2 separate regions of the Homo sapiens genome follow, and region 1 is linked to region 2. Evidence: fine-mapped expression QTL. A gene starts in region 2. The other region holds a variant in brackets. All regions are shown on one strand. Distances are between the middles of the regions. Region 1 overlaps LINC02082 (long intergenic non-protein coding RNA 2082). Region 2 holds the start of LINC02082 (long intergenic non-protein coding RNA 2082).

What was found. PIP is the estimated chance that this variant, and not a neighbour inherited with it, causes the effect.
Region 1: its variant is the best candidate, but not a certain one, in a credible set for the expression of LINC02082 in caudate (GTEx, PIP 0.74).

Annotation. Positions count from the first base shown.
Region 1 is chr3:168,910,120-168,915,512 of GRCh38, reverse strand. LINC02082 (long intergenic non-protein coding RNA 2082) reads right to left here. Exons shown (of 5, transcript NR_109989.1): 4 at 4,699-4,841. Among named protein-coding and RNA genes, the nearest start is that of LINC02082, 11 kb to the right of the region's middle. The variant T/C (reference allele first, on the strand shown) is at 2,076.
Region 2 is chr3:168,899,302-168,904,694 of GRCh38, reverse strand. LINC02082 (long intergenic non-protein coding RNA 2082) reads right to left here and starts at 2,750. Exons shown (of 5, transcript NR_109989.1): 1 at 2,716-2,750; 2 at 1,155-1,329.

The DNA of each region.
Region 1 (5,393 bases), 11 kb before region 2:
CTGAATTTTTCTCATGAAGTCTTGGCAAAAAAATTATATTTAATACATTTTCTTATATCTTTTTTAAGTGGAGGCATTAATATTAAAACATTTTATATATTTTAAGACTTCTGTTGGAAGAAAAACACCTAATTTGTTAATATATGTTATTTGAATTAATATTCTTCAAAATTAGAGCTGTTAGCACACAAACATTAAAATGAAGAATTATTAAATGGTGTTTCATGTAATCCTGATATAAGATTTAGAGATAAAACTCTGTAAATATTTGGAAGAACATAAAAGAGGCATCTATCACTTTTAAATGCATATCTTAGACTTTATTTATATTTAAGTTTTTTTATTTAGAAAAAGTAAAATATAAGCAGGAAAAGTGGAAAATAGTCTTCACATAATTAGCTAAAAGAGACAAAGCTTTGGAATGTCTTTTAAATCTATTTTAAAAGCTCAGCTACTTTTTTGTTTTTTTTCTATTACAGACCTAAGAAAAGTTATTTCAACTGAATTGCATACATAACTCCTAGAGTGTAGACAGTTGCTATTATTTGTTCACTTCATCAAATGCTCTTTTAAATTCTTGCTACATCTGTATTACCAGGTCCTAGAGAAACCAAGGTGAAAGAGGCCCAGGAGAGGCCAAACCCTCTTTGCTATTTCTAACAAAGGAAATGCCATTCTTGCCACTAACTCTTGGAATGATTTCCAAGTTCTCTGAAAGTAATTTAACCTGTGTCAAGTAGCTGTCTCATCTGGAAAACTCAATAAACGAATGTAGAAGTTAGAAAGAGTAGGGGAAAGTTAGGTGTCATAGTGAAATAGTTTATCCCAGGCATGTTGAATTGAGACTCCAAATTAGCCAGCATACTTCCACACATCTGCTCACTTTTCTTTAAACTTGAGCTATATTATTGCAGAAAAGCATAATAATCCCCACTCTGATCTTGTATTTCAAATGAAAGAGGCTAAAACATCATAGCACATGCGCCTTTCTAGATCGGTTAAATATTATGAGTGGATACATTTCCTTTGGAGATCAGCATTTTTACATTTAAAGGACAGATTAAACAGGGAGAAAAAGTAGAGGAGTAATATATAAAATATTTGTATCCAATGACAAGGATTCCAATTTTACATTAAACTTTAGCTTAAAGAGGACATGCCTATTAGATTATACTTCACTTAATAGTTGGATTCTTTAACATTTTGTGCAAATTATTTCTCGGCAGCCAAATCATACTTCACTGTACCTGAATAGTGGTTTACATGTAAAAACCTCAGGTAAATGCTTATGTACTGCCAAAGTGAACAGCAACCTTTATTTATTTGTTTAAAAAAGGTGAGGTCTTTGTACACTGTTTTCTTAATTTGAAGCAGTTTCAATGTGGCAGTTACAAAAAATAAAATTTTAAATTCTATTATATAAATTTTCAAGGAAACTATATTTCATAATTTTCCAGCTGTAGAATTAAGATTAATGTTTATTATATGTTGGTTTATGCATGAAATATTGCATATAATAATATTCAGGATATCTGCTAGTGTTCTTAAGCAGAACTGAGGTATTTTTAGGAGAGATCACTCTGCATTGCTTATCAAGATTTTTCAAGATAACCAAAAGTACAATGGAAATATTCTAGATTTTAAACATTTTCTCATTTTTATTTTTTAATATGAAAGACAACTTATAAAAATTTTTATACAGAAAAGGGGCTACAGTAAATTGCACTTGTTCATGCTGACTGGTATAAGAATGAAAATTCAATTTGTCTAAAGGGTCCTGGGATGGCACAAATACAGGTTCATGCTCTGACTTTGCTTTCCCGGTCCTACAATTTGTTTTAGTGTTGGGTGGAAAGGGGATGAAAGGAGATAATATATGAAACATCTGCCATTTGCCAAGAAACTTGTTTAACATTTTACATATGGTTTCTCACTTATAAAAAGTTAAGTAATATAAAATCAAAAAGAATAGTCAAAATAAATCCCTTATTTTTATTCCTATCAAATCTAGATTTTTCTCATCTGCCTGAATAGAAATACGGTCTCTACTGAGGAAGAAAAGCCTGATTTCTTTC[T/C]CTTTTCCCTGTTTGTAGCCATAATTTTTTAACAGTCATGAAATAAAGAAAATCCAGAGGGGGCTGGCAGCCCAAGAGAGAATGCTGCTTTTATTTACTTTATTCTCTTTGAAGGTTAGATGGTGATAGTTGAGAGAAACTACAACAATAGCAGGTAAAGAAAATGGGCAAACGTTCAGAATAAAGAATAGTTTTCAGCTGATTTGAAATAACAGATTATTAATGACTGATTTAAATGGTTAAAATGCACTGAAATGTAAATCTTTAATTCCAAATACTGGAGAAAAAAGGTAATTTATTTTATCTCATTTAAGACTAAACTAAATTAATAATCTCTTGGAGAAGCCAGGAGTGGTGGCTCACATGTGTAATCTCAGTGCTTTGGAAGGTTGAGGCAGGAGGATAATTTGAGGCCTGGAGTTCAAGGCCAGCCTGGGTGACATAGTGAGACCTTCGTTTCTACAAATTTTTTAAAATCAGATGGGCATGGTAGTGCATGTCTGTAGTTCCAGCTACTTGAGGGGGCTGAGGTGGGAGGATTCCTTGTGCCCAAGAGTCTGAGGTTGCAGTGAGCTAGGATCATGCCACTGCACCCAAGTCTGGGCAACAAAGGGAGACTCTATCCCTAAGAAAATAAAAAGTATACGCCGGGCGCGGTGGCTCACACCTGTAATCCCAGCACTTTGGGAGGCCGAGGCGGGTGGATCACGAGGTCAGGAGACTGAGCCCATCCTGGCTAACAAGGTGAAACCCCATCTCTACTAAAAATACAAAAAATTAGGCGAACATGGTGGCACGTGCCTGTAGTCCCAGCTACTTGGGAGGCTGAGGCAGGAGAATGGCGTTAACCGGGGAGGCGGAGCTCGCAGTGAGCCGAGATCCCGAGATCCCGCCACTGCACTCCAGCCTGGGCGACAGAGTGAGCTTCCGTCTCAAAAAAAAAAAATAAAATAAAATAAATAAAAAATAAAATAAAAAGTACAACATTTTTTGGAAAGTGATCTCATTAACTCCCTTATATCATTTAATAACATTAAGCTTGACATGGCTGGTCATTATAGGTAGCTATATCTCTGCTCTGTTAAAAGTGCTGAGATTTAGAAAGATAATCATTAAGATGAGAAACTGTACTGAATTGATAAAAGTATTTTTATAAATCCTTCAGTCAATTCTATCCTAAATCTGTTTTGATTTAAAAGCCACTCATACATCTTGTATAAATCAAATATTCAGTCATATAATTGTAATATTCTCTATTTTTATCCCAATAAAGCATGGGTAACATGAGAAACAACATTTCCAATCAAGAAAGTTTTGTTTGCTGATGTGAATTAACCAGTGGTCTGAAAAATTTAAGTGCTTATAAACTACTTGAGAGCAAAAATAAAATAGTATTTATTGCTGTATCTTTCTTGGCTTATCACAGTACTCATCTTAGGTTCATAAATGGCTATATAGTTGTCCTAAATGATGAACAATTTGAATCAAGATTACCACTGTGAATTAAAAGACTGATTACAAGTAGGTCCTGATTTATAGGAAATTTGTGTCCCCCAGAGTAGGCTAAGCCCTGGCCTCGGTCACTGCTACCCAGTTTTTTCCTTTCTGCTGGCCAGTGACGGAGAAAACACACTAAACATTTTGATGTTTCACTATGAAAGTGCACGTCATTAGGTGGCTAAAGTCTTTATAGTCTCCCACACCAAAGTCATGTTTGAAAAACAATACATTAGCAATCCAGAGCAGAGTTTGTTATGAAGAAGGATACTGAGAATAAATAGATGAAATTCTAGATATTTCTAAAGAGGATCCAGCTATTTCATGGCCACTGAAGTCTTCAGTGAATAGGTGTGAATATTTCAGTGTAGTCCAACCTGAACTGAAAAGCAGTTCTTCCATCCAAATTTAAATACCTTCTGTGCATATAAAAAAGGTCCACTTATTAGTCCAAACATTACTAAGATTGGGATCCTGAAATAACATTCTCTTATTATTGGCTATATTCTTCAGCAAAAAAACCACTGGGAAGGCTAGGCTAGAGAATGAGACTTGTGCTTGGAGATGACAAAGTTGAGACATCCTGTTATTTACCCCACAACAGGTCGGGATGGGCTGAAGATGGCTGAGTAAGTACATTTCTCTGTCAAAGTTAAAATGATAAACCGTGGATGAAAGTCTGCAAAATTCTATTCACCAATTGAAAAGCTGTTAGTATTTGGATATTGAGGATCATCTGAACCACTTTCCTCACAGGTTGGGTCCACTGTCTTAAAAAGGCAGGTGCAGCTCCCATTGAGAGGGCTGCAGTGAGCTATGTAACCACACTGACACTGGAGAGCACAGTTTGGTCCATACAGGCCTGGCCTGCATTCTATGAGGGAGAAAATTAAAGTAAAAGCAATTCAGATATGCTTTTCAAACACACAGTGTTCTTACTATTACTTCTTGGCATTCAATAAGATAATTATACGCTTGTGAAATATTCTTTTTTACCATGGGATATCTTCCCATGCTAGAATGCTATGTGATAAAAGTAAGAACATCAATGGAAAACAGGAGAAGGGTGGGAGTGTCAAGGAAGTTAGTGACAACACTGAAAAGAGAAGTCAGGACAGCAACTTACATTTTTAAGGTGCCTTCTCAGAATTAGAGACTTCAGTAGAGCTTTAGTGGTTGCATCGTGAAGGACACAGGGAAAGTTGGATAGTTGTCTTGAGGTCAGAAAAAGGCAACATCCATGCTGAACGCCCAATACAGGAGACTAACCTTTAGGATGAAAACACAATTATTTGTGCTTATGTTATTGAAAATGAAATGACTTTAATTTCAACTGTTTCATTTCTTAAAATATGTCAGAAGGTCCATAGATCCCCTGATCTATGTCCTACAGGACTCTATCTTTAAATTGAATTACACTGTGCTTGCAACAGAAAGAGAAATGATGGAAGATTATAGAAAGTGTTAGCTTAACCAAATGTTGACCAAAAAGGCCCGGCCTGGGTGTTTGCTCTTAGCCTGATTTCCAGTAGAGAATTAACAAGTTCTGTTTCTGAAGAATTATGAGGATAAGGAGAAAGCCCAGCCCAGCTCACGGAAACAGAAAATAGATTCATATTTCCTACTCGGTCAGGCAGGACTGGGAAGAAACTCAGTTTATCAATGTTTAAGGATCAGAGAAACTCAACTGTGCAATCATAACAGTCACCTACCCTTGTGGAGTTTACAAAGTGGGTCTCTAATACAGTATTTCTGTTGGTTCTAACACCTGTGAGGTGGGCAAGGCAGTGAGTTAGGCTCTTGCATTCCACAGAGAAATAA
Region 2 (5,393 bases):
TTATCCATGCCCATTGCAATGTGGTTTCTTCTATAACATGTTGTTGAATTTCATGACAGTTGAACGAGTAGTGACGGAGAGTAGATAATCACACTCATTTTCACTAAGTCGGAAGAGTCACACCACCCGCAGTTGAAACCATCTGGGTAAACGTACATTGTGAATTTTTTTCTGCTCTGAGTGCCTCAAGTTTAGGCCTCCAGCACAATGTTCTCATCCACACTTTGCCAGAACCTTTGCTCTGTAATCTGCCAAAATACAATGTCTCCTACAATAGTGCGCTCTAAATAAAGTTGGTGCTTTCCAGTGTTGTACAAAATAACAAATTGTGGTTCAGGAAAACAAACATTAGAACAACTATCAATATTCATTTTATCCATGTTTATCAATTTAAGCATTTATCTACATTTTATAATATACTTATTAGTCAAGACGTGCAAGAATGTCATTTATAAATAAAAATGCATGTATAGTGGTATAGCAGGCCCCCCATCCATGGAGAATACATTCCAAGACTCCCAGTGGATGTCTGAAAGCTCAGATAGCATTGAACCCTATATACACTACGTTTTCCACTATACATGCATAACAATAATAAAGTTTAATTCATAAGTTAGGCATAATAAGGCATTCACAGTAACTAATAAAAAAATTACATCAATGTACTTAGAGTTCTGCCAATCTTACAAAAATCTTACTGTACTGTACCGCAGGTAAACCACAGGCAAAGGGGGACTACTGTACTGATTAAATTTTTCCTGATGAAACAAATTTTGGAGACTTTTGGGTGGTCCTCTTCCCTCTTTGCAGCTGTGCCTATTCTTATTCATGTGATCTGGCTTCTCCCAGAGCCCTGTATCCTCCGCCTTGCCTGCCTGAAAGCCTCAGAGGTGGTGGAGATTCTTCAGCTTCATGCCTAGAAACTCAAGACTTAGTAGATTTGGTGTCCACAAAGCCTTTCTTTAGGCTTAAAAAGTGGCTGGTAGGGGAGTTAAGTTTAGGTCTCAGAGGAGCTCTTTCACATTAATACTATTTCAATTACTTAAGGAGTTTAGGAGTTTTCATGTGATATTTCAGTAACAATATCAATCATATTTACATAACAATTTTATTGGATATTCAATTATAGTTCTAAACAACTTGAATTAGCTTACTGGAAAATAGCTTCTTCACAAGTTTCTGCTGTATTTTATCAACCAATGACAGTATTCTCAAAAGTAGATCCTTTTTTTATTTTTGAGACGGAGTCTTGCTCTGTTGGCAGGCTGGAGTGTAGGGGCGCAATGTTAGCTCACGGCAACCTCCGCCTCCAGGGTTCAAGCAATTCTCCTGCCTCAGCCTCCAGAATAGCTGGGACTACAGGCGCCCGCCACCATGCCCAGCTAATTTTTGTATTTTTAGTAGAGACGAGGTTTCACCATATTGGCCAGGTTGGTCTCGATCTCTTGACCTCATGATCTGCCCACCTCAATCTTCCAAAGTGCTGGGATTACAGGTGTGAGCCACTGCGTCCGGCCTAAAGTAGATCTTTATTGAGGGAAAAAAGGCAGTGAATCAACTTGCTTTTTTCACAATAATTTCCTGTCCACCCAAGGCCACAGATAGACCTTCTATCTGCAGAATTGCAAAGGCCACCATTTTTACAAGTACATTTTAGCTGATAATTGAGGCCATGTCTTATCTGGGGACAACCTGTAATAAAATTTTGTAAAAATAAAATAACACAACACTTTTCTCTTCCTTTCTTTCTTCCTTCCTTCCTTCCGTTCTTTCTCTCTTTCTCTTTTTTTTTTTAAAGGAGTCTTGCTCTGTCACCTAGGCTGGAATGCAGTGGTATGATCTTGGCTCACTGCAACCTCTGCCTCCCAGGTTCAAGCAATTCTCCTGCCTCAGCCTCCTGAGTAGCTGGTACTACAGGTGCATGCCACCACACCTGGCTAATTTTTGTATTCTTAGTAGAGACAGTGTTTCACCTTGTTGGTCAGGCTGGTCTCAAACTCCTGACCTCAGGTGATCCACCCACCTTGACCTCCCAAAGTGCTGGGATTACAGGCGTAAGCCATGGTGCTCAGCCGGAAAAACAACATTTTTCTCTACTTCAGATACAGTAACTGTATCTAGATAGCAAAAGCTTAATAAATGTTAAAATTAAAACAAAGAACTACTCACATGTTATCTGTAAGGTAGCAAATATATCACTTTCATTCATTCATTTTTTTCATTCACTCCATGAATATTGATTAATACTGTGTGTTTGGTATACTGGGACCTGCAGAGACCCTTGTGAAGAAGGAGCAGTCAATCCTGGATGACTAGGGATAAGATTTTATATATTTAGTTTCATAACTGATAAAGAAGAAAAATGAGCAGTTTGTTTTCAAGTTACTGAAATGGTAAAAGTATTTCAACTTACAGAGGTGGGTGACACAAACTAAAATGCACTATCAAGAGGAATTAAGACACAAGTGGCCTGGGGGTGGTGGCTCATGCCTGTAATCCCAGCACTTTGGGAGGCCAGGACAGGTGGATCACAAGGTCAAGAGATCAAGACCATCCTGGCCAACATGGTGAAACCCCATCTCTACTAAAAATACAAAAATTAGTTGGGCATGGTGGCGGGCGCCTGTAGTACCAGCTATTCCAGAGGCTGAGGCAGGAGAATCCAGAGGCTGAGGCAGGAGAATCCGGAAGCTGAGGCAGGAGAATCACTTGAACCCGGGAGGCGGAGGTTGCAGTGAGCCATGATGGTACCACTGCACTCCAGCCTGTCGACAGAGAGAGACTCCGTCTCAAAAAAAAAAAAAAAAAAAAAAAAAAGGACACAAGTGAACGAAACTAACCAGACAAGGAAAACGGAGCCTCTCTTTCTTCAGTGTCACGGAAAAGATAATTGAATGATGAGAAGTGCAACCGATGGGAGTGCAAAGCCCCTCCAAGGTGAGAATCAGACTTGCATTTTGTTGCTTTTGCTATGAAGAACGCAAACCCAATACTGCCAGCTAATATGACTTTTTAAGGAAAACTCAAAAGTTCATATTTTATGTGAAATTAACAAATCTTTGAAAGTTGACCACTAATTAAAATTGTTTTACAGCGCTGCTAAAAGCCAAAACTATGACAGCCAATTCAAACATATTTGTGGCTACATTTGGCCAACAGCCTGCCATTTATGACCTGAAGTTTATAGTATTTTTACATAATAATATTTTCCACATGGATTATCTCATTTAATACTAAAAAATACTCCTGTGATGTGGGTAGCAGTATTCTTATTTTACTCTTGAGAAAATTGAAGCTCTGAGTCTAAAGTCTTGCTCAAACTTAAACAGCCTATAAGGATAAGAACTAAGAGTCAAATCTAGACTATCTGACTTCCAATCAAATTATTTCTATTCCAACTAGCAGAAGCAAACTAGAGTAATTTTTAAAATTCCAGCTAGCAGAATAAACATTAGAGAAATTTTTATATTCCAGCAAGTAGGAAAAAAAGAGTTAGAGAGACTTTTTTTTTTTAACTTGCCCAAAGGCATTGGTTAATACATAGCAGAACAGGTACATGAATTCAATCTGCATGATACTTTCTTTATTGCTTTTATTTGAGCAACTAGCTGCACTGAATTCCAGTACCAAATGAAAAAAATTTTTTGATTTTGTTACTTAAATAACAGTTATAGTTGTACAATTAATGGTTGAATCATCATTATACGTGCAATAGACTACCTTTAATTAAATCCATTTTACCTTTTGCATATAGGGCAAATTAAGCAGAATCAATATCAGGTGTTATTAAAATAAACTTTTGCCTGTTTTCCTTCTACGCTCCTAAAACAACCCTGTCCTCATCAGCCAGGAGACCCATTCATCTACCAGCCTATATGTTGAAATGGATTGATGAAATCAATGAATCTGTGAAAATACAGGACTTCTACTAAGCCAAGATAAGATTTAAAACATAATTGGGGAAAAAAAGCATAATTGAAAAAGTAAGAAAAACTCAGAAATATTTACTTCTACAGGTCTAGGTCTTATGACAATATTGACACAGAATTGTGTAAATGACTTTATGGCCTTTTTAAACTTTATGTAATCACATGTTAATTATTTCAAACAATATACAAAAATATATTATGAAAATATTCCATTCCTGTGTTCCAGTATTCTCAGTTCTTTTCTTAAAAACATCATCAAAAACGTCATAATTACCAGCTATTTTCTGTATCACAGGCTTCACTTCTTTCAATAAGACTTACCTTGAGTACTCTAAATTTTCAACACACCCTGCGCTCTCCAGCCTTATTTCATGCTCTTTTTTCTCTTACCACAGATTTTACTCCCTCTAGAGTACACACACACACACACACACACACACACACACACACGTTACTCTTAAGAACATTGAAGCTCAGAGTCTCAAGTCTCGCTCAGACTTAAGCAGCCTGTAAGGATAAGAATATATATATGTTAGAGGGGTATAAATAACATATATAAATTTATTAATTCCCTTATTATTTATATTTATTATTATCTCTCTCACTAGAAAGCAAGTTGCATGAGCACTTGTATAGTCTGTATTTTAACCATACACTTTATATGCTTAAAACAGGCATTGTCATTCAATAAATATTTTTTGAATTAAGTGGATAAATGGCTGGATATATCCAGAAATAGCCTATGGCTAGTAAAGCATAATATGTCTATCTCCTGTATCCCTTAATGCTTTTCTACCCAAAGGTTAATATGTGTGTATGTGTGAGTGTGTCTATATATATATATAAAATATATAATATATGATATATAATATATTATATAATACATTATATATAATAAATAATATTGTAAATGTTGCTTTCTTTTACATAAAATTTCCCAAGATTTTTCCAAATTAGTAAATATAGATTAACAATGTACTAAATTAGTACATGTATATAAAATTAGTATAGTACATAAATTAGTACACAAAGTATTTAAATAATTTTTCCAAATTACTACATTAGTACATATATGCCTCATTCTTTTTTAACAGCTACATAGGAATTTATTGTGCTTTGCAAAATTTATTTTGGCACTCCAGATTGTTTAAAATAATTTGCTACTACAAACAATGCTGTAATGAACATCATTATGTAAGTCTTCATTCTTATGATATGATAATATAGTATAATATCACAATATAGTACCTATAGAGTAAATTCTTCAAATAAAATATGTGCTTTTTAAGTAGTAATGAACACTATCAAATTTCCCTACAAAGAGATTTTCCAATTTACTAAGGATTATCAATGTGCCCATTTTTCAATCTTTAGCCAATATGGCATGCCATGATTATCTGATAGGTGAAGATGGTACAAAGTGCAACTTAAATTTGGATTTGTCACACTATAAATGATGCTTAT